Regions from separate parts of the Homo sapiens genome. Here region 2 is linked to region 1. The links come from fine-mapping of genetic effects on gene expression. A gene starts in region 1. The other region holds a variant in brackets. All regions are shown on one strand. Distances are from middle to middle.

What was found. PIP is the estimated chance that this variant, and not a neighbour inherited with it, causes the effect. A credible set is the group of variants that fine-mapping cannot tell apart.
Region 2: its variant is the best candidate, but not a certain one, in a credible set for the expression of ARID1A in lymphoblastoid cells (TwinsUK, PIP 0.72).

What each region holds. Positions count from the first base shown.
Region 1 is chr1:26,688,383-26,704,035 of GRCh38, reverse strand. It overlaps ARID1A (AT-rich interaction domain 1A), which reads right to left and starts at 8,021. Exons shown (of 20, transcript NM_006015.6): 1 at 6,496-8,021. The coding sequence starts at 7,632. It overlaps LOC124900417 (translation initiation factor IF-2-like), which reads left to right and starts at 7,631. Exons shown (of 2, transcript XM_047439473.1): 1 at 7,631-7,819; 2 at 8,071-12,128. The coding sequence starts at 7,631. The coding sequence ends at 8,757. LOC101928728 (a long non-coding RNA gene) reads left to right here and starts at 9,905. Exons shown (of 1, transcript NR_135804.1): 1 at 9,905-12,126. It overlaps LOC105376888 (a long non-coding RNA gene), which reads right to left and starts at 14,854. Exons shown (of 3, transcript XR_001737950.2): 1 at 14,799-14,854; 2 at 13,671-13,745; 3 at 13,224-13,260. RefSeq lists silencers at 1-38, 6,408-7,007, 7,058-7,387, 7,758-7,917, 8,008-8,337 and enhancers at 7,316-8,251, 8,252-9,188, 11,021-11,120, 10,837-11,351.
Region 2 is chr1:26,792,323-26,804,154 of GRCh38, reverse strand. PIGV (phosphatidylinositol glycan anchor biosynthesis class V) reads right to left here. Exons shown (of 4, transcript NM_017837.4): 3 at 8,921-10,042; 4 at 3,496-6,592. The coding sequence ends at 6,311. Among named protein-coding and RNA genes, the nearest start is that of PIGV, 10 kb to the right of the region's middle. RefSeq lists enhancers at 1-38, 3,822-4,071. The variant TTTTTTG/G (reference allele first, on the strand shown) is at 8,440.

The DNA of each region.
Region 1 (15,653 bases):
TCTAAGTTTCTTGAACATTTAGCTTCACAAAAAAAGCCTCTGAAAAGCTGTCCCAGGTTAACCCTGCCAAACTGATTGAACCTTTTCCTCTAATTCCTTCAGCTCACATAATTAGTGTGGTCTACATCCATTTATGAAACCTTGCTTTTCAAGTTTTCCAGATGTGTGCACATAAGCATGCTTTCCTAAGAAAACTAAATGCCTCTGAAGGAGATATTGTTTCTACCTTTTAAATCTCTTCCTAGTACCTAGCTGGTGTAATCACATAGGGCTATTTCCCATCCCCATTGGAATTTCCTGATCTCTCTGACTTAGAAACTATGCTCTCAGCAATAAGTCTGAAGTTCCTAATACCCTCACTACCAACATACTGGGAAAGGACCATGCAATATTAAGCAACCTATGTCAGTGCCAATCCAAGTTTTTGTGTTTTGTATTAAAACAAGCTGATAGCCTTTGGTAGTAAGTTAGCTGAACCTAAAAATCATAGTCAGGACCATAATTACATTCATATTCCCTGCTACTATATAAACAGCTAAGTCAAAAGGGCACTTCCAGGACTCTGGTGTAAAAAACACTTCTTATAAAGAAAACTGGTGTCAGAATCAATGAATCTAGTTAAAAAAGACATTCTGAGAAGGCAAATCTGGTCATCTCACAAGGCTACCAAAGAAGAGGACCACAGACAGACAGCTAAAATATTCATAGATTCTTCTTCTTCTTCCATAAAAAGAATGTGTCACTGAAGGAACCCAGATATGTTTTTAATCCTAAAATGGCAATTTCAAAAACAAAGACTGTATCTACTCACATAATCCTTCAAGTAAGATGTAGTGAGTCCCCAAATATTTGGACTTTGTACTGACCCAGGAACAGAGTGTAAAGGCATATTAATTTTATCATAAGTGATACACAGAAGTCCAGTAAAAACTGTATAAATAAACCCAGGCCATTGGGTAGTGGACTTATAATCCCCAGCACAACAGCAAAATTGAGGATAAAGATCACACTCAAGTTGCAGTATCTTTTTTCTCCTTTCTAATATTCCAGAAATGCAAACCCAAGCCAAAAATAATCTCACCAAGCTACCCTTTAAACCTCAAAGTCTCATAAGCCAAGTGTCTGGGGTAATACTTACCTTACTATTGACAGTCAGGATCTTCTTTCCAAACTTCTATTTTCACTATGAAACTGCAATTGACTTTAACAGGATACCACATGCCCTGAACTTAGCACGCAGCCAGGGCCACAGAGGTTTCACTACCAGGGCAGCATCTTTCCATTTCAATTTTTTTTTAGATCACTTCTTATCTCCACACTCACTGCCCCCCAGCACTACCCTTTTCCTATCCCCAAGTCTTTTTCCCCAATGTTATTTTACTCCACCACATGAGGAGGCTAGCATTATCTTTGCTTGAAAACTGTTTATTAATTTGCCTGTCAAACATTCTATAGAACAGTTTACATCTTACTACAGAAACCTCCTGGGTACATATTGACAGCTCAGCAAGTATTTACACAAAGCTCTGAAACATTTGGTTCCTTCAGAGACGATAGAAGATGCTGTGTCAAGCACAGAATTATCAAACACTGTTCCCTCTACCCTTTTCCCTCCTTTATAAAGGGAAGCTTCCTTCCTCTAATATACCTAAATTACACTTCTAAACTACTAAGCCAGGAAGAGAAAGAATGGAAATTCAGGTGTGCTGGAGAAGAGAAAGAATAGCATTTCCAGGACCACGTGCAAAGCACACCATGTAGTTTTTTAAACCATAGCGATGAGAAACAACAAATGCACCTATGAAATTGACCCTGAAACGCAGCTTTTCCTCTTCCAGTCTCAGGAACATTTGCTTCTCTCTCAGCAAAACTTACAGGGCAAGTCCAGGCACTCAGATTACAACCAACTGCCCAAACCAGACCTAGACCTGCCCAAACACCAGGAGTCTGGAGAGCTTAATGCTCCCTCTCTCTCCCTACCCCTCCCCAAAAGCAGCAGAATATCAACACTGAACTTATGAATATCCATTCCTCACCCCAACCCCAAGTGCAAAAGCCTCCTGGGGATCCTGAAGCAACTATTTTTCAAGTCTTGCTTTAATGAAATCTACCTAACTTTCCAACGACTATTTAGTGTTTTAAAACCACCAGCCAGGTGGAATGACTAATGACAAACAGATTAACAGTTTCAAGGCAACAGTCTGGTAGAGCTTTTTCTGTAAAAGTCTACAGACCACAATGGCACCCAACTGTTCAGAGCTTGTTCCTGTGAATCCCAGGAGAAAATAGCTTTGAGTTCCTTCAGTCCAGGGGAAGAAAGATGGTCTCAAGACCCCTGATTTATGTACAGAAAGCTGCCTTCATAACAAGCCAGCTATGGAAGCACAGATATGTAGCATCTTAGAGTGAGAAGGCCATGCAGACCAACTTCATTTTATTGATGAGGGAGAAAATGAAAAATAGAGAAAGCAAATGACCTGCCCAGGGTCACACAGCTTAATCTGGAGCTGTATGTGGAACCTAAGCCTCCTCCTTCCTCCTCCTGTTGTGAGTCCTGTGCTCTTTACCACTAACGCAACACACAACTCAAGTATGCATCAGTAATAACAACGTAAGTGTGCGTCAGTAATGATAATGACCAATCTAAACAAGGAAAAACCCAGAGATAAAAGCCACAGGAATCAGGACTCCATTCAAGCCCCAGGTATTACAGCTCACTGGCAGAAAAGAACTACTCGGTGCCAATATATTTGAATACCACATTTTTACCATATTTACAAGCTTCAGTTGCTTCTAGAATTTTGAGAGTTGAAGCCAATCAATACAACCTTTTGAGGGATGGGAACAGGAAAGAGCCCTGCCTATTACTTTGTTAGCCTATTCCCTCATTCTAAAAAAGTTCACTAACCTCTTTGCAAAAGGTCTACTGTAGACATTACACCTACAGGAGTCAATCCAACATATTAATGTTTAATGCAATCCAAGACATCCTGTTTCAGCAGGTGCTGCTTGTCATGGTTACTCATGTCACACACAAAGAAAGGAACCTAAAAAGTCCTCACAGGGCCCAATACACAAGAAGCCAAACCTGGTCCTGGCTGCTTTCTCTGTTCTCACACCACCATCTCAATCCTCATCACCCCAGCTCTCTCATGAACAGTAGAGAAACATGAAACCCCCACAACTAAAGTGCCATCTCAGTGTGGTTTTCCTGGTCCCTCCTACTTGAGAGAGCTCCAAGAGTCCTGTATTTCAGCCAGCCTAGAATTTCTGCCAGTAGGCATTCCCATAATAAATCTAGGATTCCTGTATCTGTTTCCCAGGAGTCAGAAATATCATTTGATGTTTCCGTAGTAGAAACTAACAACCAAACTTCTACAATAAAATCCAACTTGTTCCTGGACTATTTATTGTATTTTATTTTTTACCTTGGTAAACTGGTATTACTCTCAAAGTATTATTGCTAAAAAGCGTCCCAATAAAAAGCCTTAAATCAACTTCATGTGTGTAAGTAATCTAAAACTATTTCATCAGTACCGGGATTCAACACTTGAGATACACTACTTATGAAAAGGAATAAAGTAAAAGTTTGTCTAAGATCTTCCCAGGTCCTGTGAAAAAGACATAGCCACAATACACACACTTACCTAAACTTTATTTCATAAGCGCAGAGTCAAATGAAAACGTTATCACCTTAGCTGTGTTAATTAAGTCTCTGCAAAATATTCTTAATCTAAGACTGCGCCAGGAAAAGATGGAGACAGAGCAAGACTTTTTAATTTAAGAATGTTGAAGAGTAGAGCATCATGGTCTGAAAAGAGGTTTATCAAGTAGCAAAGAGAAATTCAGAACAAAGTCTGAACCTACAACCCTCACCTAGACTACTACCACACACCTGAAGCAGTCCACAGAAGTGGAAGCTGCACTGTCTCTTACACAACTGAATGCTCACCAGCCCATTCCCTGGGTCTCTGGGGAGTAGACAACTGAGCTGAAATTAATTAGGAATCTATGTTGTGTGGGTCTAGTGATAATAAAAGAGATCAGAAAATTCATCCAAAGGCAGCACAGACAGGCATCCAAACAGGGACTGTATCTATTCTCCTATCATCTACACAGAAAGTGTTCCATAATTTACTGACTGAAAAACAAAAATCATTATACCAAAAGAGTTGGCTTTTTCTTTAAAACCTTTGACTAAATATTTCCAAACCAGCAGAATTCCAATCAATTTTGCTTTTAAATGAACCCTGACTTACTACCCCAAATGACTTATTCTAATAGTTTTCAAGAAAAGTAAAATTTTCAGCCAAAACCAAACAAAACAAGGGGAATGAGAGGAAAGAGGTTCAGACTATAGGATGACCCAGAGACAAGAGGATGCTGTCTTTTAAGACAAAACTTTTCCTCCAGACACTAGAAAAACAATGTAACATTTCCCTATTTCTTGTCCAGATGCAGAACATCATGGAAGATGTAGAATCAAGGCACAGAGCTCCAAGCCCACCATCTAACACAGCTAATTTCAAAATCCCCAGCTCAAAAGAGTAGTAAAGTAGCTCTAGGATGGGCTGGGAATACAGCTAGTAAGTGAACAAAATTTCCTCCTAGCACAAAAGCGCAAGGGGTTTGGGAGGGGATGAATGGAGCTTCCCCCTCTTTGAAAACATGTATGACTCCACAGAATACTCAATATCCCTGACCAAAAGCACTGCTGACAGAGCATGATGAAGATGGAAGAAAAGCAACAAAATAAAACAAGATAGAATAGTGTAACAAGGTACTCAGAAGTTGCAATTTCTAAGCAAATCTTAAGTGTCATTCTAGGTCGTATCTTCATATCTTGGAAGACAAGAAAAAAAGTGGAACATACATTAAAATGCAAAGGAATAAACTGGCCAGTCTCTATTTCAAAGCTCTAAAATGACTGATGACAAAACAGAAAACTAGACTTTTTGTTATTCCAGGAAAAAAACAATTTCACCAAACCAAGCCTTTAGGAGAAAGTCCCTCAAGATCATGAAAGACACCAGCTTCCCTTTAAATTAAGCTGCTATTCCAAAGTTCAATTAACAAAAGAAAGTGTTAACAAGATTCAACATGTAAACAAAGAATGAGGCCAGTCTTCCTTAAAACAGACCGCTTGAACCTAATATAAAATTCCTCAGAAAGCTCCCAGTTCTAAAAAAAATAACAAAAACTGTTTTCTGGCCCCCCATAAAGATCCCACATTTGCCACTCAATAAAAAGCCCAGTAAAATCATTTCAATTCTGCAAAGCAACCAGTGTCAAAATTACTCAAGATAAATGCATCTTCAGAGCCATCAAAGAAGTCATTTATACCATCAGGAAAGTCACAAAACCAAAACAAACAGCAAACCCATTGTAGAGAAAAAACTCAGCTACTGTTCTGACAACACAGAATTCATTTCAGGCTGCATAAAACATAACAAGCAAAATAAATCCAAGGTACAAGCAAAATGCCATTGCCTCCTCTTTTGTTTGGGCACAATGTAACAAGGGCAGGCTGTCTGAGGCTTTGCTCTTGCTGATACAGTATTGCTACTTAAACCTCCCTCCTCAAGGTCACAGCCAATTTCAGCTCTGGAATAAAAGGCAGATAGTGGCAGCGATAGTTTGGGTTATCACTGGCAGAAAAGCAGAGTGTAAAAGTTTATGAGCTCATCAGGATTGTTGTACCATTACATCAGAGGCAATTATAAATGGCCAAGAGCAGGAGATGGGGAGCCAATCAGATCACAGATAGGATGTCAACCTAAGACCAACTGTCTCCTGGCTTTGACAGAAGGATTTTACCTCCATAATTCAAATCCCAAACCAAAGCAATCTGCACTTACTACTCCAATCACTCAGCTGTTTACCAGCACTTCCAGGGAGAAGCCCAGGCCACTGGGCCGGCGGAGCCTAAGACAGGAGATGGACCGGGCTGCCCTAGGTGAACCGCAGCCGGCCTCTAGCAGCTCCCAAGCAGTCCCCTGCCCTCCCCTCGAGGTCCCCTCGAGCTCTAGGGGCCCTCTTTGAAAGCACAGATGGGGGGCGGCCCAGAGGAAGGCCGGGGGACGGAGAGGAGCGGCAGGTGAGCAAAGAAACGTTCATTCAACTCCTGGGCTCCTACCACTGCCTACACTCCTAACCTGAGCCCCCAGCGCCCCCTCACCCCCTCACCCCCGGCCAGGCCCTTCCCCGCACACTCTGCCCCGCACCCCCATCAAGACCCCTGGAGTTCGAAGGGACCAGGGGAGAGGAAAAAGAGGAGCAGACACCTCTGGAAAAACCCAACACAAAGGCTGAAGGAGGGAAGGAGAGGAAGGCAGACAGGCAGCCATTTTAAGAGAGAAGAGCCAGACAATGGCAGCTCCCCAGCAGTGGGGGCCCGGGACTGAGGGGAGCCCAAGGCTGTGGCCCGCTCACCGCAGCCGCCACCCACCCCCAGGACCACGCTCGCCCCAGCCCCCTCCCCACTCAGCTGTGTACCTGAGGGGTCCGGGCGAGCGGCTGCCCCCCGCCGCCGCTGCTCCCGGGGCTCATGGGCGCGTGGTGGCTCCTTTGTTGGGCCCCTCCCGAGGCGGCCGCCGCCGCAGCTGCCGCCGCCGCAGCCCCCCAACACTGCGAGGCCATGTCCGCCGGGCCCTTGCCGGCGCCCCCGTCCTGGGGCCCGCCACTGTAGTCGCCCCCGGGGTAGCCCTGGTAGCCCCGGGCCGAGCTGGGCGACGTGAGCAGTTGGTTGAGGGTGGGGGTGGCGGTGGGCTGGGGAGTTCCCCCGCCGGCCGCGGAGGGGCCGCCTCCCCCCATGGCCCCGAAGCGCTGCTGAGCGAAGGACGAAGACGACGAGGAGGCGGAGGCGCTGGAGGAGGGAGGCGGCTTGGAGCCGGCAGCCGCCGCCGCGCCGGAGCCCGGAGTGCCACCTCTCGGGGAGCTCAGCGCGTAGGCCGGGGCGGGCGGGGGGTAGGCGCTGCGGTTGGGGTAGTAGGAGTTGTACTGGTGGTTGGGGAAGCCGTGGTCGTGAGAGTTCTGCTGGGGCCCCGCGTAGGGCTCCAGGCCCCCGCCGCCGCCGCTCTGCAGCGCTGCCAGGCCAGGGCTTTGTTGTCCGCCATGTTGTTGGTGGAAGACGGCGGCCGCGGCGGCGGCGACGGCAGACGGGCTCCGGCCGTAGGGTTGCCCGAAGCCGTAGGCTGGGGGCGGCAAGGCGGCCGCGGCTGAGTGAGGAGGCGCCCCCACCCCATCGCTGCTGCCGCCACCGCCGCCGCCGGGCGGCTCCGTGAGGTTATTGTTCAGGGCGGGCCTAGGGCCCGCGTTCCCGTTCGAGTTCTTCAGGTCCGGCTCCGCGCCGGGCCCGCCGCCGCTGCCGGCTCCGCCGCCGCCGCCACCCCCATTGCTCTCGGCCCCGTCCTGCAGCTCCTTTCCCAGCGGCTGCGGCGGCCCCACGGCGGGGCCCTCGCTTTCCTGCCCGGCGGCTGCCTTCATTTCCCCGCGCTCGGCCGCTGCCGCCGCCGCCGCCTCGCCCCCCGCCTCCTCCCGCTGCTGCTGCTCGGCTTTCTTCAGCTCCGAGGGCGGCGGCGGCGGCGGGTTGCCCAGGCTGCTGGCGGCGGCGGGGGCGACCTGCGCGGCCATGATCCCCGCTGTCTCGTCCGCGGAGAGACCCGGCCCTGTCTTCGTCTTCTCCCCCCCTCCCACCCCGCCCCGGGGCCCAGTCCCCCGGGCTGCCCTCCCCACCCGCCCGGGCGGGCCTCGCGGGGCTCCGCTGCTGCGCTGCGCTCGCTCCTCTCCCCCCCGCCCCGCCGGCTCAGGCTCCGGGCTGGCGGCGGCGGAGGAGGAGGAGGCGGCGGCGGCGGCCGAGGCGCCGGCGGCTCAGCTGCTCCCGGCTCTGTAGGCTCGGGACCCGGCTCTCCCGGCTCATTCCCCCCAAGCCCTTGCCTGGGAATGAGGGGGGCGGTGGAGGCTCCGCTCCCCAGGGCCTGGCCCCGCTGTGACTCTCCGCTTTCTGCTGCCGGAGAAAGGAGGAGGGAGGGAGGGAGGGAGGCGAGGGGGAGGGGGCGGGGAGGGAGGGAGGGAGCGGGGGGAGGGGGACCCGGGACGGGCGGGCTGGAGGGCGCGCGGCAGCAGCCGGGGCGCCGGGAGCCAGAGTCAGAGCGCGGGCCGAGCCCGGCGCCCTGCCTCCCCTCGCCAGCTGCGGCTTGGGTCGAGGCTGCTGCGCGGCAGCGGGCGGGCGAGCAAGCGGTCGGCCGGACTGAGCGGCTAGAGCGCCCCACTCTCCTCCGAGTCCCCCTCACTCCGACACGAGGCTCAGCACTGCCATTTTACCCAGCGCCGTCGCGGCCGCCTGGCAAACCCGGAGTGGAGAGCGGAGCGGGCGCAGGCCGTGGAACGGACTCGCTCCCTTCCCTTCACAAAGGAGGAGGGGAGAGAACAAGCCGCGGCGGCGGCAGGCCCTCAGCCGCTTTCGCTAGGCAGCGCCGCCGCCGAAGGCTTCGGAGAAAACCCGGCCCGGAGCCCGCGCATCTCTGGAGCCTGCGCCGCCTCCCTCCCGGCGTCCCTATCCAGGTCTGTCCCCTCCCGGCCGTACCGAGGGGAGCGGGCAGCGTGAACTTTACCCGCGGCTGCAAAATTGGCCAGAGCCTGAGACCGCGGCCGCCTCGGCCCAGCCCTGACCCCCTGGCAGCGGGCCCGGTCCGTTGGCTGCTGCTTAGCACCTCTACAGCACTTTTCGTCTTCAAAGCCTTCTACGGACCCCGCTAAAGACCCAACCTTTTTTACCCTCTTTGCAAGCCCGAAAGAATGACTGATCATTGTTCAGACGATTCGTTTCCCACTCGCCTGCCCTCATTAGCCGGTCCTTACAAGGCTCTGGGGGCATGAGGTCCGGATTATCCCCATTTTACAGAATTGAAAGAGAGGGGAGGGAACTGCCTGTCACTTAAAGTCAGAGGGCAGAGGAGGGTGACTTTAAAAAGAAGTGGAGTCACCAAAGCTGCCTTCGGTCTACTTGCCTTTAAAAAAAAAAAAATCAAGTTGTGAGCACATTCAACAATGGGATCAGAATATCAAAATGGATTTGAAGTCAAAACTGATCATCTCACCACTAACTTAAAATGGAGGCCACTGAAGTTGCTTTAGGAGCATAGAACAGTTACCCAGCAGGAAAACCTAAACACCGTTTCTCACTCCCTCTTAAGAAAACTTAGCCTACCATGACAAGTAGCCCCAGTCTCCAAAGACAGTACCTTCTAATACTGAAAACCCACAGAAGAGGCTCCAGGGACTGCAGGAACCTGAGTGTTCAAACCATTACAGAAGAGAGATGCAGAAAATGGAAACCATTTTCTCCTTGAAGAAAAGGCACAGTCCAACAAGTCACTTAGAAAATGGATGCTTGTCAGATTTGTTTTCTATCCTGTAGCGTAAAGATTGTTTAAAGTTTACCATTACATTCTAAGAGACCCCGATTGAGCTGGAGTTGGGTAGAAGGCCAGGTTTATCTGAAAAGATCGACATACACAGAAAGCTCCAGTGTTCTCCTGATCTACAGGCCCCACCAAATCCCAGCAGCAGCCTTTTCTTCCTCAGGCTGACTTGGAATGTTCTGATATGACAGGCTACAAAAGCCAGAGGGGATTCCAGCTCCTCACCAGACCCAAGGCTGCCTTGGGAAAGGCCCAGGCCAGTGTTCCTAGACACCAGGATCTCTTTTCCCCCTCAGATTTTGTAAAGGGAGACTTCATGGCCACAGGAGCATTATCTTAGATTATGCAGGACCCGGGAGTGCTGGCAATGTCCCTGGTCACTATGAATAATTCCAAAGCCTGAACTCATTTCTCTCCCCAAGAAAACTTACTGCATCCTACACCAGAAAGGCAAAACCTTCCTGTTAATCTAAGAGTGATGAGATTTAAAAAAAAAAAAAATCCCACAGTTTTATTCTTCTCCCCTCCCCCGGCCTCAAGCCAAGAACCAAACCAGCCTACCAAGAAGATCCGACTGACTGGTATGGGCCAGTGCCCTCTTTTCACTCACAGTCCTCAGGGGCAACAACTCTCCCCGGTGCATTAGGTCCTAGAAACCAAATTATAGGCTGCCTCATAAATAGAGCTTGGCTATTTAATCAACTGCCCCTGAGCTGGCAAACAGTCCTGAGTCCTGCACACAAATGAGGATTTTTTTACATGCCATTACTCTGCCATTTTCCTTAGAGCTGGGGTGTAATGGGAAACCTGGAGCCCAGTGAAAATCTGGAAGCTAGAATGGATTTCTCTCCAAAGAAAGCCCTCATCCCCTTTCTTCAATGGCTGTGAAATATGGAAAGCGCCAAAAATCTCCTTCCCTACACGTGGGCAAGCTGTTTTGAAAACAGTCACCATTTTTCTCTAGCAATAAGGTAAAGTGCACAAAAATCTATCCACCTGGGTTGGAGGAGATAATGTGGAATTTCTCTACTTTTTTTTTTTTTTAATTCACTAGGGTTCTCTTCCACTTTTACTTTTAGAGCCCCACACCACGATCCCAGGAAATGTTGGGCTGAGGGAACTTTTTTAGAAACTGGCCCATCAGCTTTCCCTAGGGGCAGTGGCAACGGGAAAGCGGGGGAGGGGAGGAGCTGGGCACGTGGCTGGCCCGAGCAGCGAGACCCCGGCTGGGGGCAGTGGGTCCTCCCTTCGGTGGAGTTTTTTCCCCCACGGCCCCTGCCTTTTAACCCCACACCCAGGCAGCTCAGGAATCCCGGCGCAGATTGGAGAACTAGGACTAGGACAGCGCTACCCTCGCGAAAGCACCTCGGCCAACAGCCTGATGGCAAATATGGACTGAATCGTTGACATGGAAACCGGACTAAAGTCTCGCTAGCTCTCCCTCACAGGAGAGTTCTTATCGCCGTCCCCGACCGCACGGCACTTAGCAAACGCGGACTGGATTTGAGGCCTGGAGGATCAGGCGGAGTTTCTGGGCGTATTAACTCCAGCGGCAGAGCAGCCAAGGAAGGGGGCAGGGCTGCCAGGACAAACCGGCTGAAAATGGCAGAGGATGTGCTCCCATTTTATCCGGCTGCACAGCGTGCATGGATTGGGCCCGAGGACAAGGGAACAACCTATTAAAATCCAGAGAGTCAACTGCAAAATGTGGAACCGAGGCCTGGAGGGTTTGCTAGGAGAGGGAAACGTTTGCAGGGAAGACAGCCCTTCCTTTCTCGCAATTTGCTTCCCCTAAATGTCTGAAATACAAAACTCAACAAACAAACAGAAGATCGGGCTCGGCTCCTTCCTCCACCCAATCCTTGTGGGAGAAGTCGTCTTAAGCCCAGGGACCCTAGCGAGGGTTTGCTTAGATTCCTAACTAAGGCGTGGAGAATCGCTGGAGCGCCAGGTTGTTGCCCCCACACGTTCCCGCCGCGGAACAGCAGCAGACACCCAGCAGAGCTCTCTCGAGTGCGAACTGGAGCTGCGAGTTTGAGCAAAAGGGCAACTATGTCAGTTGACGGAAGCCAGAAGCAGAGTTCAAAGCCTGGCGTGGATTTCCGTCTGGAGCTGTCTGTTCTTAAAGTTTGTAACTCCGTGTTAAGAAACAGCCCCAGCGGAGGCTTTGGGATCGGTGTGAAAGTCTAGCACTACCATCTGACAGCGAGCTGCAAAACTTTGGGCTGCATATTAAGCGAGGAAAGTGGATTGAAGCGAGAGTCAAGGCAATTCATTATGTTACCGGCTCCCATACGGGAGCTGTAAAATACGAACTGGATGCACACACGGAGAAAAATGGAATGAACTCGGAATGGCATTCAACAGCTCTTCGCGGTAAAACTGTGACTGCCAAGGATCTAGAATCCCAAAGGAGCAAACCAGGAGGCCTCAAACTTGGTTGGCACACAATAAATGCTTTTCTAGATCTTTTCCCCACTCATCTCAAACTCTTAAGCAATTTGGGGTCATTTATATTTCAGAATAAGGAACACATTTTGAGAAATGTTAATTTCTGAATGAGACTTTTTTTCCCCAAAGTAGCTGTGAAAAAAAGAGCCTCAGGCATAAGTCAGCCAGCTTATTTTGTCTCAATATAAATTAAAAATTACCCTCACCACCACCTCCACCAAAACTGAAATAAAAAATAAAATAAGTAAAAGTCCAGGCTGGTCTGGCTTGTGGCAGGTTTCAAACAAAAATAACACCCAGGGCCAGTCTAATATGAGGAAAAAGATACCAAGGCTTTCATATTCTTCTAAGTACAGCCTCACTCACCAGTCTCACTGGTGAGCTTGCTGACCAGTGAGCTTATTTTTGTGGAAAAGACTGAGTAAAGCTACTACTAATATTTTTTAAAAAAACAAAAAACAAAAAAACGGGACTGGGGTTTCATAAAACCACTGGGCAGATCAGGAAATTTGGATTTCTTATTTCTGCTGAGCTCATTGAAGATTTGTATTCACCAACTAATACAAAAAATACTGTATGAAAAACCTACTTAAAGCTTGAGCCGCGCGTGGTGGCGCACGCCTGTAATCCCAGCACTTTGGGAGGCCGAGGCAGGCAGATCACGAGGTCAGGAGATCGAGACCATCCTTGCTAACACGGTGAAACCCCGTTTCTACTGAAAATACAAAAAATTAGCTGGGCGTGGTGGCACCCGCCTGTAATCCCAGCCACTCGGGAGGCTAAGGCAGGAGAATCGGTTGAACCGGGGAGGCGGAGGTTGCAGTGAGCTGAGATGTCGCCACTGCACTCCAGCCTGGGCAACAAAGGGAGACTCCGTCTCAAAAAACAAAAAACAAAACAAAACAAAAAAAAGCTTGATAGCCTCTTCATAGTCAATCAAAAGAGAAACTTAACAATTTTGTGCTTGGTACTTATTACACTAAGCTGTTTTTAGATCTGGAAGGCTAAGCACCAACAATATTACCAAGGTAAGGTCACCAATCTTAGCACAGAAGGCTATTGCCCAGGAACAGGAAAAGTCTGTTATCTAGGATTTCCCATGTTAAACCAATGTAGGTTGCTTTTGTTTTGTTTTGTTCTTTAAAACCAACCTAGGGAAATTTCACACATATAAAATGATTATAAGGGAAGTTTTTGAGAGTTGACAAGAAAATCAGAAGGAAAAATCAAACACTGTATTCTAGGTGGAGATTTCTTTCAGCCCTTGCCTGCATAAAGCTTTCTTACACTGCCATTTTACTGAGTTAGGAAAAAGAGTCAGTGGGGAAGTTTCTCACAGCAACTCTGGAATGGATCTGGAATGGAGTCTTTTATTCCAACACAAGTTCTGTAGAAGAGTTGGAAAGAGAAGGAAAAAACAGTGTAAGCACAGACAAAATGGAGGGAGGCAGGCATGCAGTCCTATGAAATAGGATAGGTGGCTAAAAAAGCAAATGTGCTGTCTGTTCTCTGCAAAGCAACCACCTTAAGAGAATCCTCCAGCATGATGATACTGGGTGTTTTTGTATAAGAATCAAAGAAAATCCAAAGAAATCTATTAGGTATAAGACAGGAATTGAGTGGCCCCTAATGAAAAACATTCTGACTAGCTTTAATAGGGTTTAAACCCATCTATCCCTACAGAAAATGCCTATTCCTAAAGATAAAATGGACCAAACAAAAAAGTCAGGCGTGGGAGTGACTACTATAGTCATAGTAGCAGTGTGGCACTCCACTCCAGTGAAATGCGGAACTTACCAATGACACCAAGGGAAAGCTGCCAGGAAAAATCAGACTGAGTTTTGGCACTTTTCCACATTATCACTTTCTTCCCTGAAATTTAACAATATTGAAACTGGATTCAGAAGTCACCAGAGGGGTTGGGGGTAGGGACCAGCAGGTTGGTTCTTATTGGCCTACCCCTCCAAAGAGACTACTAGAGACCTGTATAGAAGTGTGTTGTTGCTCTTCTAGTCTTGCTGTGGGAGGGAGAGAACAGGAGACAATGGAGGAAATAATCCAGCACACTTCATCAAGCCTATCCAACAAGCCATTTAAAAACAATACGGGAGGCCGAGGCTGGCAGATCACTTGAGGTCAGGAGTTCGAGACCAGCCTGGCCAACATAGTGAAACACCGTCTCTACTAAAAGCACAAAAATTAGCTGCGCATGGTGGCAGGCACCTATAATCCCAGCTACTCAGGAGGCTGAGGCAGGAGAAAATCGCTTGAACTCAGGAGGCAGAGGTTGCAGTGAGCCGAGATTGTGCCACTGCACTCCAGCCTGGGCAACAGAATGAGACTCCGTCTCCAAAAAAAAAAAAAAAAAAAAAAGCACGGAAACACACACACACACCTCTATCACAATGTGTATTCATTAATATAACTCATCCGCAAACTACACTCAAGAGCACACAGTGTTGTGCAACATTAGGCACTATTTTTGCCCCAAACACCAAAACCAGGATGGAGATTACACATTTTTACTAGGCCCTTTCGACTTCAGAACAAAGCCCAAGAGCTCATTGAAGTATTTTTCTCCTAATCACTCACAGCTACTTAAAAATATGGATACTCTAATTAGCTGGGCGTGGTGGCGGCCGCCTGTAGTCCTAGCTACTCAGGAGGCTGAGGCTGGAGAATGGCGTGAACCCGGGAGGCAGAGCTTGCAGTGAGCCGAGATCACGCCGCTGCACTCGAGCCTGGGTGACAGAGCGAGACTCCGTCTCAAAAAATTAAATAAATAAATAAATAAATAAAATATGGATACTCTGTCTAACAAAAACCCGAGTTTGTGGCTAACGTGTTTGCCCCTTTAGCCCAGATAAAGTTGGAAGTCCAAAGGGTTTAGAAAAGAGGGATTCTAGTTGACTCCACCACACCTACCTTCCAGTTCTTTATGAAGTAGTAGCCAGTGTTTCCAAGGTGGAATCAAGGAGAGTGGAAGTACCACACAACCTTCGGAAAGAAAATATTCTCTAGGAAAAAGCTTCAAGGTGAAGGAGGTTGCAACCTGATTGGCTACTGAGGGTTTTTAGGAGTCCATCATTATTAGTACAATTTGTCACTGATTGTAGAGAGGGTCGACAGAAACCATTTTATAATCTCAACCAAGTAATGTAGACCAAGACCGCAGTCTCTACCCTAAATACTCACCTTTCATGATGAAGCAACTTTACCCTATGCACTTGTTCATCCTCAGCAATCCTTGAGTTGCACATGCTCTTCTGACCCACTTTCCACCAAAATCGGTCTTCTCCTAAGACTTAGAAATTTTTGTGAGCCTGTTATTCTTTCAACTAGAAATTAACAGTATGATGATTGCTAATAATAACCATTCCAAAGCTGTATTTTAAAACTTCATTAAGTACCTTGTTCCTTGATTTAACTACCTCCTGGAATACTTATTAATGCTATAGAAATTACATTTAGCGCCGGGCACTGTGGCTTACACCTGTAATCTCAGCACTTCGGGAGGCCAAGGCGGGCGGATCACCTGAGGTCAGGAGTTTGAGACCAGCTCAGTCAACATGGTGAAGCCCTGTCTACTAAAAATGGAAAAATTAGCTGGGCGTGGTGGCGGGTGCCTGTAATCCCAGCTGCTTGGGAGGCTGAGGCAGGAGAATTGCTTGAACCCAGGAGGCAGAGGTTGCAGTGAGCTGAGATAGTGCCACTGCACCCGAGGGCAAGACTCTGTCTTGGGTGGGGGGTCGGGGGGGGGGAATTACATTTAGCTACTAC
Region 2 (11,832 bases), 100 kb before region 1:
CGCCTGGCAACCGCCCCGTCTGAGAAGTGAGGAGCCCCTCCGCCTGGTTGCCACCCCGTCTGGGAAGTGAGGACCGTCTCCGCCCGGCAGCCACCCCGGCGGGGAGGGAGGTGGGGGTCAGCCCCCCGCCCGGCCAGCCGCCCCGTCCGGGAGGGAGGTGGGGGGCTCAGCCCCCCGCCCGGCCAGCCGCCCCGTCCGGGAGGTGAGGGGCGCCTCTGCCCGGCCGCCCCTACTGGGAAGTGAGGAGCCCCTCTGCCCAGCCAGGAGCCCCTCTGCCCAGCCAGCCGCCCCGTCCGGGAGGGAGGTGGGGGGGTCAGCCCCCCGCCCGGCCAGCCGCCCCGTCCGGGAGGGAGGTGGGGGGGTCAGCCCCCCGCCCGGCCAGCCGCCCCGTCCGGGAGGGAGGTGGGGGGCTCAGCCCCCCGCCCGGCCAGCCGCCCCGTCCGGGAGGTGAGGGGCGCCTCTGCCTGGCCGCCCCTACTGGGAAGTGAGGAGCCCCTCTGCCTGGCCAGCTGCCCCATCCAGGAGGGAGGTGGGGGGCTCAGCCCCCCGCCGGGCCAGCCGCTCCGTCCGGGAGGGAGGTGGAGGGGGGGGTCAGCGCCCCCTCCCGGCCAGCCGCCCCGTCTGGGAGGGAGGTGGGGGGGTCAGCCCCCCGCCTGGCCAGCCACCCAGTCCGGGAGCTGAGGGGCGCCTCTGCCCGGCCGCCCCTACTGGGAAGTGAGGAGCCCCTCTGCCCGGCCACCACCCCGTCTGGGAGGTGTACCCAACAGCTCATTGAGAATGGGCCATGATGACGATGGCGGTTTTCTGGAATAGAAAAGGGGGCAAGGTGGGGAAAAGATTGAGAAATCGGATGGTTGCCGTGTCTGTGTAGAAAGAAGTAGTCATGGGAGACTTTTCATTTTGTTCTGTACTAAGAAAAATTCTTCTGCCTTGGGATCCTGTTGATCTATGACCTTACCCCCAACCCTGTGCTCTCTGAAACATGTGCTGTGTCCACTCAGGGTTAAATGGATTAAGGGCGGTGCAAGATGTGCTTTGTTAAACAGATGCTTGAAGGCAGCATGCTCGTTAAGAGTCATCACCACTCCCTAATCTCAAGTACCCAGGGACACAAACACTCTGCCTAGGAAAACCAGAGACCTTTGTTCACTTGTTTGTCTGCTGACCTTCCCTCCACTAGTGTCCTATGACCCTGCCAAATCCCCCTCTGTGAGAAACACCCAAGAATGATCAATAAAAAAAAAATTAAATTTAAAAAAAAAAAAAAAAACACTTTTCCGGGAGTAGAGGACTCTAAGGAGCTAGAGCAGGACAGTCACAAAATGGACAAGACTGGGTCCCCAATAATTGGGCGGAACAGACCTCCCTTCCTAAACCTGCACTAGACTATGAAGTAAAAAAGAAAGGAACTTTTATTATTAAGCCACTGAGTTTTGGCGGTTGTTTGGTATCGCCGTTAGCCTACCTTGGATAATATCCCTAATCCCTAAATTCAATAGTTTTTCTCATCCTTTCCTTAACAGTATATGACCCTGCTAACCATTTCTTTCTTCTTGAAACTTTTTTCTTGAGACAGGGTCTCACTGTCACCCACATTGGAGTGCAGTGGTGTGATCACTGCTCACTGCAGCCTTGACCTCCTGGGATCAGGTGACCCTCCCACCTCAGTCTCCCGAGTAGCTGAGACTACAGACGCCCACCAGGATACCTGGCTAATTTTTGTATTTTTTGTAGAGATGGGGTTTCACCATGTTGCCTAGGCTAGTCTCAAACTCCTGGGCTCAAGCGATCCACCTACCTCAGCCTCCCAAAGTGCTAGGATTACAGACATGAGCCACTGTGCCTGGCCTTGAAACTCTCTTTTCCGCCAATGATACAATTTGTTTCTGGTCCTTTAATGATAATAATGATAATACAATAGCTACCATTCATGAAGTTCTTGCCATACAGGCACTGTGCTAAGTGCTTTATCTTCATGACTGCCCATGTGGTAGATGCTATCACCCCCACTGTAGATGAGAAAACAGGCTTAGAGAGGTTGAGCCACCTACCCAAACTCTTTTTTGTTTTTTGTTTTTTTTTTGAGACAGAGTCTCACTCTGTCGCCCAGGCTGGAGTGCAGTGGCACAATCTCGGCTCACTGCAAGCTCCGCCTCCTGGGTTCACGTCATTCTCCTGCCTCAGCCTCCCGAGTAGCTGGGACTACAGGTGCCCGCCACCACACCTGGCTAATTTTTTGTATTTTTAGTAGAGACTGGGTTTCACTGTGTTAGCCAGGATGGTCTCGATCTCCTGACCTCGTGATCCGCCTGCCTCTGCCTCTCAAAGTGCTGGGATTACAGGCGTGAGCCACCGCGCCCAGCCAACCTACCCAAACTCTTACAGCCCCTCTCTCTTCTCTCTCCACACTCTTTTTTTGACAATCCCATCCAACAGCATGGCTGCTGTAATTACCGTGTCTGTGTGCATGGTTCCCTGACCACTCTCTTGGTCTCCAGTTCCACATTTCCTGGCACATAAATGTGCTGCTTGGTATCGTAAACCCAACATGTCCAAAATGCAGCTATTGCTTTGTTAGCACTGTTCTCAACACTTTTCATATGGTAACATTTAATTCCCACCACCACCCTATGAGATGTTATTATTCTTTTATCTATGAGCTAGATATTATTATCTACATTTTACAGATGAGTAAACTGAGGCTTAGAGAGTCAGTATCTGGCTCAAGTTTACACAGTTAGTACACAGTAGAGCTGGGCTTGGGGCTGATTTCAAGGCCTAGATTAAGACCTCAGCTCCATTCACACTGGTTTCTCCCTGTCCTATCCTGTTCCATTTCCTGCCTTCTATATTCATTCTGTACCCTGAACTTTCAAATCCTCCCTATCATTCAAAGTCTAGCTCAACTATCATTGGTCCATGAAGTCTTTTCAGGTATCCCAAGCTGGAAGGGATCTCCATCTCGTGTAAACTTACAGAGTACATGCTCTCTGCCTCACTTACCTTTTTCTAAGCACACAAATAAAACTTGAATTCATTCTAATCATAAAAAGTTCAAGTAGGGCTGGGCACGGTGGCTCATGCCTGTAATCCCAGCACTTTGGGAGCCCAAGGAGGGTGGATCACGAGGTCAGGAGTTCGAGACCAGCCTGGCCAACATGGTGAAACCCCGTCTCTACTAAAAAATACAAAAATTAGCTGGGCGTGGTGGCGGGCACCTGTAATCCCAGCTACTAGGGAGGCTGAGGCAGGATAATTGCTTGAACCTGGGAGGCGGAGGTTGCAGTGAGCCGAGATCGCGCCACTGCACTCCAGCCTGGGTGACAGAGCAAGACTCCGTCTCAAAAAAAAAAAAAAAAAAAAAAAAGTTCAAGTAGTGAGATACAGAGCAAGAAGCTTCAGTGTCCTTTCACTCCCCAGAATTTATTGCTTTCTGCCTTAATGTTTCTGTGTCTGCTAGCAACTCTTATTAGACAGTTATTTGAGGACAGGAGGCATAGCTGAGTCATCTTTATTCCCCTAAAATAGGCATTAATAAACAATTACTGAAAGAATCAATCAGTTTCAAATCCCTTGAGCCTGCACATATTACATTTTCAGATGACAGTGAGAGGGTCTATTCAATAAAAGTAACATTTTTCCAGGAGGACTGGTAAAGGTATGTCAAACACTCTCCTCCCACCTTCATTAAAGAACAAAAAAAAGCATCTACTTCTAGGTACGTGAGGCTGAGGCGTCTGGTTTCTGTTTTAGCAGGGTCTCAGAAGGAAATGACTTTTCTCTGAAACTGTAGACACCCCACCTAGCTGTGGCATTGTTAGGCCTCAGGGTAAACAGGAAACTTCCTGCCTTGGGTCCTTCATGTCCCTCTCCCAGACTATTAAAGAGACTGTTAATAGGATGGTAAAAGGACAGCTGCTGGTCATAAAATCAGCCCATTCCTTAGCTCCTTAGAGAACAACTAAATCCCTGCAAGGTCAGAGAGAAAACCTTGTCCAGCTCATGCCAGGTGCACCCACCTAGCTGGGCTCCTGTTACAAGGTTTCTGGGCATGATGAGATCTAGTGTGAAGGTTAAACTGAGACTGCCAGAGCAGTGACATCACACCTACTCTGTGGGGTCTGAGTCACCTCTTCCAGTAGAGGAATAATCAGTCCTGATTATCCCCCAAAAGGAGGCAAAGAGGAGAGCGAAGAACCCAGTGCTCCTACCTCGGCAATAAAGAGCTGAAACAGGACCCCAACACTTCCTGCACGCAAGGTGGAAGTCTCTGGATTTGCAGCTGTTGGCAAGGAGAAAGGGAACAGTTTCTGCCAACTAACTGGAGGGACACTAGGGCAGGGGTGATCATCGTTTGCCAAGAAGGGCACTTGGTGTCTTGGCAGAAGGCAGAGGGCTGCCCTGATCTGTGTGTACATTTTCAGAAGCATTTGACTCTGAACCAAATTCTCTCAGCTGTCCTAGTGCTGGGGCGATGGATGGGAAATGCTTATTGGCCAGGCTGACCAGAAGCTCCAACAGAGGGTGCTGGGGCTCAGCCAGGAGCTTCCCTTCAGCTGGCAAGTTGAGCTTTCTGTCATGGTCAGAGGGAGTGTGTCAAAATTCCAATTCTTGAGGCTTTCCAGAAGCTGCTTATGATTACCCATCTGTTTTGAAGAGTTTCTGCTTACTGGATGTTTTGGCTTAAATGGGAAATAAAAGAGGTGATGGATGATACAGAGCCAAACTCTCGTCTGGCTCAAGGAATGGGCAAAAGTAGCTCAGCAGGGGCCAGTGATCTTACTACCATTATAGTGATAGGCTCATGACCAAACGGGGGCCAGGAAGCAGGGCAGATACCATTTCATTCCACCTTGGACTTACGTACAATTTACCAATTCCTGCCGCCGTGTTGGCGCCTCTGACCCATGTCTACTGATCAAGTAAGCAGGCATCTGAGAACGGCACAACAGGCACCTTATCTGCCAGATGTTACTGCTTTCCCTCATTGAAAGGAAAGACCACCTAAATTACTCCCAAGAGTTGCACTCGGTGGAGGAGGAGTTTCTTCTAATTGCTGAAAACAGGAGAACTGGATATTTTCTCCTAAAATCACACATTTAAGCCTCTACATTAGCATTTAGACTGGGGTGATTCTGTTGTTTAAGGCAGTTCTTAAGATGTTAGAGCAGAAAGGGACCTACAAGAGACTGCATCATTCACCACCACCCCCTGAAGAATATCATCATTTCCCATGGTTTCAGAGGTGGTAACTAAGGTTCTGAAAACTCTCCCAAGTCACATGGCTGGTAAATGGGGTTTTACTGAGAGGACTAGAATCCAGGGTTCCTGATGCCTTCTTCTTACCCTTTTTTCCCCCAGCTGATTTATATTATTTTAACTTTTTAAAATTATTTTACTTTTTGCCACATGGAAAGATTTGTATTATTTTTATTTTTTACTTTTTTTGAGACAGAGCCTCACTCTGTTGCCCAGGCTGGAGCGCAGTGGCGCAAACTCAGCTCACTGAAACCTCCGCCTTCCAAGTTCAAGCAATTCTCATGCCTCAGCCTCCCGAGTAGGATTACAGGTGTGTACCATCATGCACGGCTAATTTTTGTATTTTTAGTAGAGACGGGGTTTTGCCATGTTGGCCAGGCCGGTCTCAAACTCCTGGCCTCAAGTGATCTGCCCACCTCGGCATCACAAAGTGCTGGGATTACAGTGTGAAACGTCGTGCCTGGCCTGTATTATTTTTAAAAAGGCAATTCATTGCATGTATAACTGAAAGAAGTTTAATTTGCATATCTTTGTAAGTTTTTTTCATATAAAAATACATGCACAAATCATAAAAAAAAACATCAGAAACAATGTCGCATTTGGAAAAAATGGTCCCACTTTATTACTGCCACTACACTGTTCAGGCCTATACCATCTTGTGTGGACTGTTACCAGCCTGTCAGCTAATGCCTTTGATGAAATTTACACTTCAATAAATTGACATTTAAATTTACACACAGGTCAATGGTAGGTTTAAGACTGTCTCTGCTATGTTGATTGACTAGACAGATCCAGGTGTATTTTAGACTTGGAATACGACAATCTTCACTTACAGAGAAAATAGTTGTCTAAAATTTGCCCTAGCCAGGACCAGAAGGGGCTCTCTAGTGTCTGACACTTCTCCCATTCCTGACCAGCTTTCAAAGAGAAAGAGAAAGATTATAATGGACACAGTAATGATCCCAGGGCAGCAGAGGCAGTTCCAATGTGTATTTTTACTTTCAGACCCCTGGGTTAAGTTGGCTTCCAACCTGTCCCTGGAGAGTCCAGGTCATGTCCAAGGCAGGAAGTTGCAATGTAGGAGTAGTCCCAGGAGCCAGTAAGTCAGGAAGTAGCCTAGAATGTATCGTGTGACTGGAGAACAGGTTTTCCAGTGATACAAAAGTCCCATGATAGGATTTCTGGGGACCTTTTGTCCTGGTGGGGAGTCCTCTGCAAGAGGCTTCCAAGGCACAGTCTTTAAGGATCTCAACAGCGGCTCTTGATCCTGAAGCAAGTGAGCTGGAAACCAGTACATAATAGGAGTGGAGGAGCCCAAAAACCTGGTGAGAACCTAGAAATCATGAGAGGGGAATATCCAGACATTTACTGGAATGTCACTGACTCAAATTGGACCAGCCCGGGGACTTCTCTACTGCTGGGTGAACTATGGTCCTGTGACTAGAAATGTATTACACTGGAAAAGAAATTGAACACAGCTTAGGATCTGTCTTAGAAAGATGTATGTACAGCAGACAGGCATCCTCCATATTACAAATAAACATAGCTACAGACTAATTACATTAATTACTATTAAAATAATGGGCCAATTAATACTAGAAACTCTATGGGGTCTAATTTTAGCCGAGGGCCTGGACTCTAAACTCTGTGATATTGATTTGGGGATTGGGAACCTGAGGTGGTTCCCTTATCCCATGGGATGGCAAAGCAGAGGGAAATGGGCAGAAGACCCATTGCTTGAACATTCTCTCTCCTATTGGAGTTCAGACACAAGTTTCCAAATGGCCTCCCTCAGCTAACCTGGAAACTTTAAGCTTTGCTGGCACACATTCTACGATTTAATCTAGCTAAAAACACGGAATGCTACTTTCTATTTCCTCTGTGTCTCTTATCCATACAGCTTGGAGAATTTTAGAAACAGCCAATGTGCAACTCCAACAGGAAGAAACTGCTAAGAGGTCGGCATGGGGAAAAAAGATGTCCCCAGGGTGGGGCCACAGCCAAGAACAGAAAATCAGATATAAGATCAAACCTTTCCCATCCCTCTCTATCACCACCGCCACCACCCAAAACATTGGTTAAGGTTATCTCCTCTGGAAATTGGGGGCCTGCCTGAGTTGAGAACCTCCTGAAGTCAACAGTCAAGAAACCAATATGGATATAACTATAACTGTGTATTAGGGAAAAAGATCCCAGAGATATCCTCCGTGCTTATTCCTGTATCTCAGTCCAATCAGGTCCTTTCACAACCCTCGTGTTTTTGCATATGCCCTTCCTTTTACCTAGAATGTTCCTCCTCTGCTTCTTATATGGAAAATCTCATTCTTCAGGACCCAGCTGAAATATGATGCCTTTCTCAAGTACTCCAGTGAGTTACCTACTTCTTCGCCTCCATAATACTTTATCTGAGCTTTAAAAAAAAAAATCTTGCTGGGCGCAGTGGCTCGTGCCTATAATCCCAACACTTTGGGAGGCCAAGGCGGGTGGATCACGAGGTCAGGAGATCCAGACCATCCTGGCTCACACGGTGAAATCCCGTCTCTACTAAAAATACAAAAAATTAGCCAGGCATGGTGGCAGGTGCCTGTAGTCCCAGCTACTCGGGAGGCTGAGGCAGGAGAATGGCGTGAACCTGGGAGGTGGAGCTTGCAGTGAGCTGAGATCATGCCACTGCATTCCAGCCTGGGTGACAGAGCAAGACTCCGTCTCAAAAAAAAAAAAAAAAAAAAAATCTCAGGCCGAGCGTGGTAGCTCACGCCTGTAATCCCAGCACTTTAGGAGGATGAGGCGGGCAGATCACTTGAGGTCAGGATTTCGAGACCAGCCTGGCCAACGTGGTGAAACCCCATCTCTACTAAAAATACAAAAATTAGCTAGGCGGTGGTGGCAGGCGCCTGGAATTCCAGCTACTCGGGAGATTGAGGCAGAAGAGTCGCTTGAACCCAGGAGACACAGGTTGCAGTGAGCTGAGATCGCACCACTGCACTCCAGCCTGGGCAACAGAGCGAGACTCCATCTAAAAAAATAAATAAATAAATAAATAAATAAAGTAAAATAAAATAAATCTCAAAATAGCACTCCCTTTTCTATCCCACTGTACTATAATTTATGTCAAATGTCTGTCCTCCTATTTATACCATGAGACCCCCCAAGGCAGTAATTTTTTTTTTTTTTTTTTTT[TTTTTTG/G]AGATAGAGTCTCACTCTGTCGCCCAGGCTGGAGTGCAGTGGTGCAATGTCAGCTCACTGCAACCTCCACCTCCCGGGTTCAAGCAATTTTCTGCCTCAGCCTTCTGAGTAGCTGGGATTACAGGTGCCTGCCACCACGCCCGGCTAATTTTTGTATTTTCAGTAGAGACAAGGTTTCAACATCTTGGCCACGCTGGTCTTGAACCCCTGACCTTGTGATCCACCCACCTCAGCCTCCCAAATTGCTGGGATTATGGGTGTGAGCCACCGCGCCTGGCCGCAATTTTGTCTTATTTATGTTTCATCCTTAGAGGTCTGACCCAGAGTCTGGCATAAAGAATAACCCTAAATAGTCATTGAATGAATAAATTCAGTATGGATCACTCAAACGGGAGATGTTAGCTGCCTTCCCTGTCCTTGGCCAAGGGGTTTTGCCTGTATTCACATCCTTATCCCAGTCAGGAATCCACCTCACCTGAACATGCATGCACAGACCTCCAAACAGCAGCAGCACTGCAGCGTGGACCACGTACACAAACACCTGAGGACTGAGGAATCCAAGATCGGGCTTCTCTAGGGTCTTATTGTTCTTGCTCCTTTGCAGCCCAAGTGTAAGGCAGAGCCAAGGGTGAGTGGTCACGTATGTCCAAGTTGCCCAGGCAACCAGTATAGCCACTGGTGCAGCCAGTAGAAAATTGGGCACCTGCTTGAGCTCATAGTATTTCAAAAAGCCAACATTCCAGTAGACATCCTGGATATAGCTGTATATTAGTGGAACATCCCAGAAGCACCAAGGCGGTTCATTTCCCTCTGCAATCCGGTAGCCCTTGTCTACAGCTAACTGTACCAAAGGCTCAGGAATGGGGCGGGCTGAGCCTGGCAGACAGAATTGGGTGTAGGCATAATACTGAAAGAGGGCAAAGGGAAGGCCAAGTGTGAACACCGACAGAAACAGAGAGGCCATCAGCTTAAAGAGCTGTCTCAGAGGATTCAGCATCGTTAGAGAAGAGAAAAAGCCTTGGCATTGAGAATGCATGAGGAAGCCAACACTGACCAGCCCGTTGGAGCGTACCCCAGTGGCAAAGGCAAAGAGGAGTACACTAGTCCAGACTCGGCCCCTCTCCAGCTGCCCCATGGCACTGAATGTCAGGAGGGCAAACAAAGCTTCTGAGTAACCAGCTGCCAGGAAGACATTGGCAGGGCTGAGACAGAAAAGCAGAGCTGCATAAAAGGACTGGTGGGGACAGTGCAAAACCAGACAACCCAGGTCATGAAGTGCAACTGCAGCCAACATGAAGAACAAGAAATTGAGTGATGCTACCGAAATCAGCAGGCAACTGCGTAGACTCAGTAACCCCCGTAAGGGTCTCAACAGTTCAGTCCCCACCAGCAGGGCCAAGGGGAAACCAGGAAAGAAGGCAAAGTTGTGCTCATACAGGTAGCCATGCTCAGCAATGAACAAGAAGTGTTCAGCATCCCAGTGAGACAGGCCGCCCAGAAGACCTTCCACGAGTTGGTCCACAAAGCCTGAGGGGGCCAGGCGAGGAGGAGAGAAGGCTTCTGCATGGTGATCTGGGATGATGGCATTGAAGAGGGCCTGTGGAGTAAAGAAAAACCAGAATTTTGGTTGAGTAACTGGAAGAAAAGAATTGCCATTTAATAAAATGAGGAAGAAGGCCAGGCTCATGCCTGTAATCCCCACTTTGGCAGGCTGAGATGGGAGGATTACTTGAACCCAGGAGTCCATGACCAGCCTGGGCAACATAGCAAGACCTTGTCTCTATAAAAACTAAAAAAAAAAGTCTGAGCACAGTGGCTCACGCCTGTTATCCCGGCACTTTGGGAGGCTGAGGTGGAAGGATCACTTGAGCCGAGGAGTTTAAGACCAGCCTGGGCAACGTAGCAAGACCTTGTCTCTACTAGAAATAAAAAAATAAAAATTAGCTGGGTGTGGTGGCACATGCCTGTAGTCCCAGCTACTTGGGGGGGCTGAGATGGGAGGATTGCTTGAGCCCAGGAGGTTGAGGCTGCAGTGAGACATGATTGTGCCACTGTATTCCAGCCTGGGTGACAGCATGAGACCCTGTTTCAAAAACACTTAGAACTCTTCTTGAGGACTGAACCCTGGACATGTTAACATCTGAAGGCTAGAAAGAGGATGAAAATCCAGCAATAAAGAAAAAAAGGAACAGTCAGTGAGGTGGCAGGGAACCCAAGAGAGCATTAGAACCAAGGGAAGAAAAGGAGTGATCAACTCTGTTAAATGCTGCTGGTAGGTCAAGTAAGATGGGGGCTGAAAACTGACCACTGGATTTAACAATGTGAAAGTAACTGGTGACTTTGACAAGGGCTATTTCAATGGAGTGGAAGAGAGAGAAGTCTACCTAGACTGGGTTCAACAGAGAATGGGAGAAAAGAAACTTTGAGGAGTTTTGCCATAAGGGGAAGCAGAAAAATGGGGCAGTAGGTGAACAACAATGTGGGGTAAAGTGAAAACTTTTTTTAAGGTGGGAGGTAAAGGTTTGTATGCTAGTGGAAATAACCCAGTAAAAGGGTATGCAGGAGAGAGGGGAGAATTGCTGGGTAGGCAAAAAGGGTACAAAGGTAGAGGAGCCAGCCTTAGAGAAGAGGACAGACGGTTCATCCAACCTTCAGTACTGAAAGCACAAAGGTGCAGACATAGGTAGGCTGAAGAATGTGATGGGCGCATATGGAAGGTCTCTTCTAATGCCTTCTATTGTTCTGAGTTGTCATTTAGGAAAACAATTTGTTACATGTTACATGTTTTTCTCTTTCCTCAAATCTCTAACACCCTTTCCCCAGAACTCACACTCAAGTGATAGACTCTTTTCAGGACACTGCACACATCATCTTCATTAATAATGAAATCACCAGGAAATCAATAGAAGTAGTGCTGGGAAGAGTGACAGTGAACCAGGAGCCAAAACCGTCAAGGATTAGCTGTCACTGACAGAGACGACAGCAGCAACGAAGGGTAACTTAGGGATATACTCTGATGGCTTGAGCATTGGAAGTGGGGGGATGATAATTAAATCGCATTTACTGTTAGATTTCTTTTTGCTGGCCGGGCGCGGTGGCTCACGCCTGTAATCCCAGCACTTTGGGAGGCCGAGGCAGGCAGATCACGAGGTCAGGAGTTCGAGACCAGCCTGGCCAGCAAGGTGAAACCCGGTCTCTACTAAAAATACAAAAAATTAGCCGGGCGCGGTGGCGGGCGCCTGTAGTCCCAGCTACTCGGGAGGCTGAGGCAGGAGAATGGCGTGAACCCGGGAAGCGGAGCTTGCAGTGAGCCGAGATTGCGCCACTGCAGTCCGCAGTCCGGCCTGGGCGACAGAGCGAGACTCCGTCTCAAAAAAAAAAAAAAAA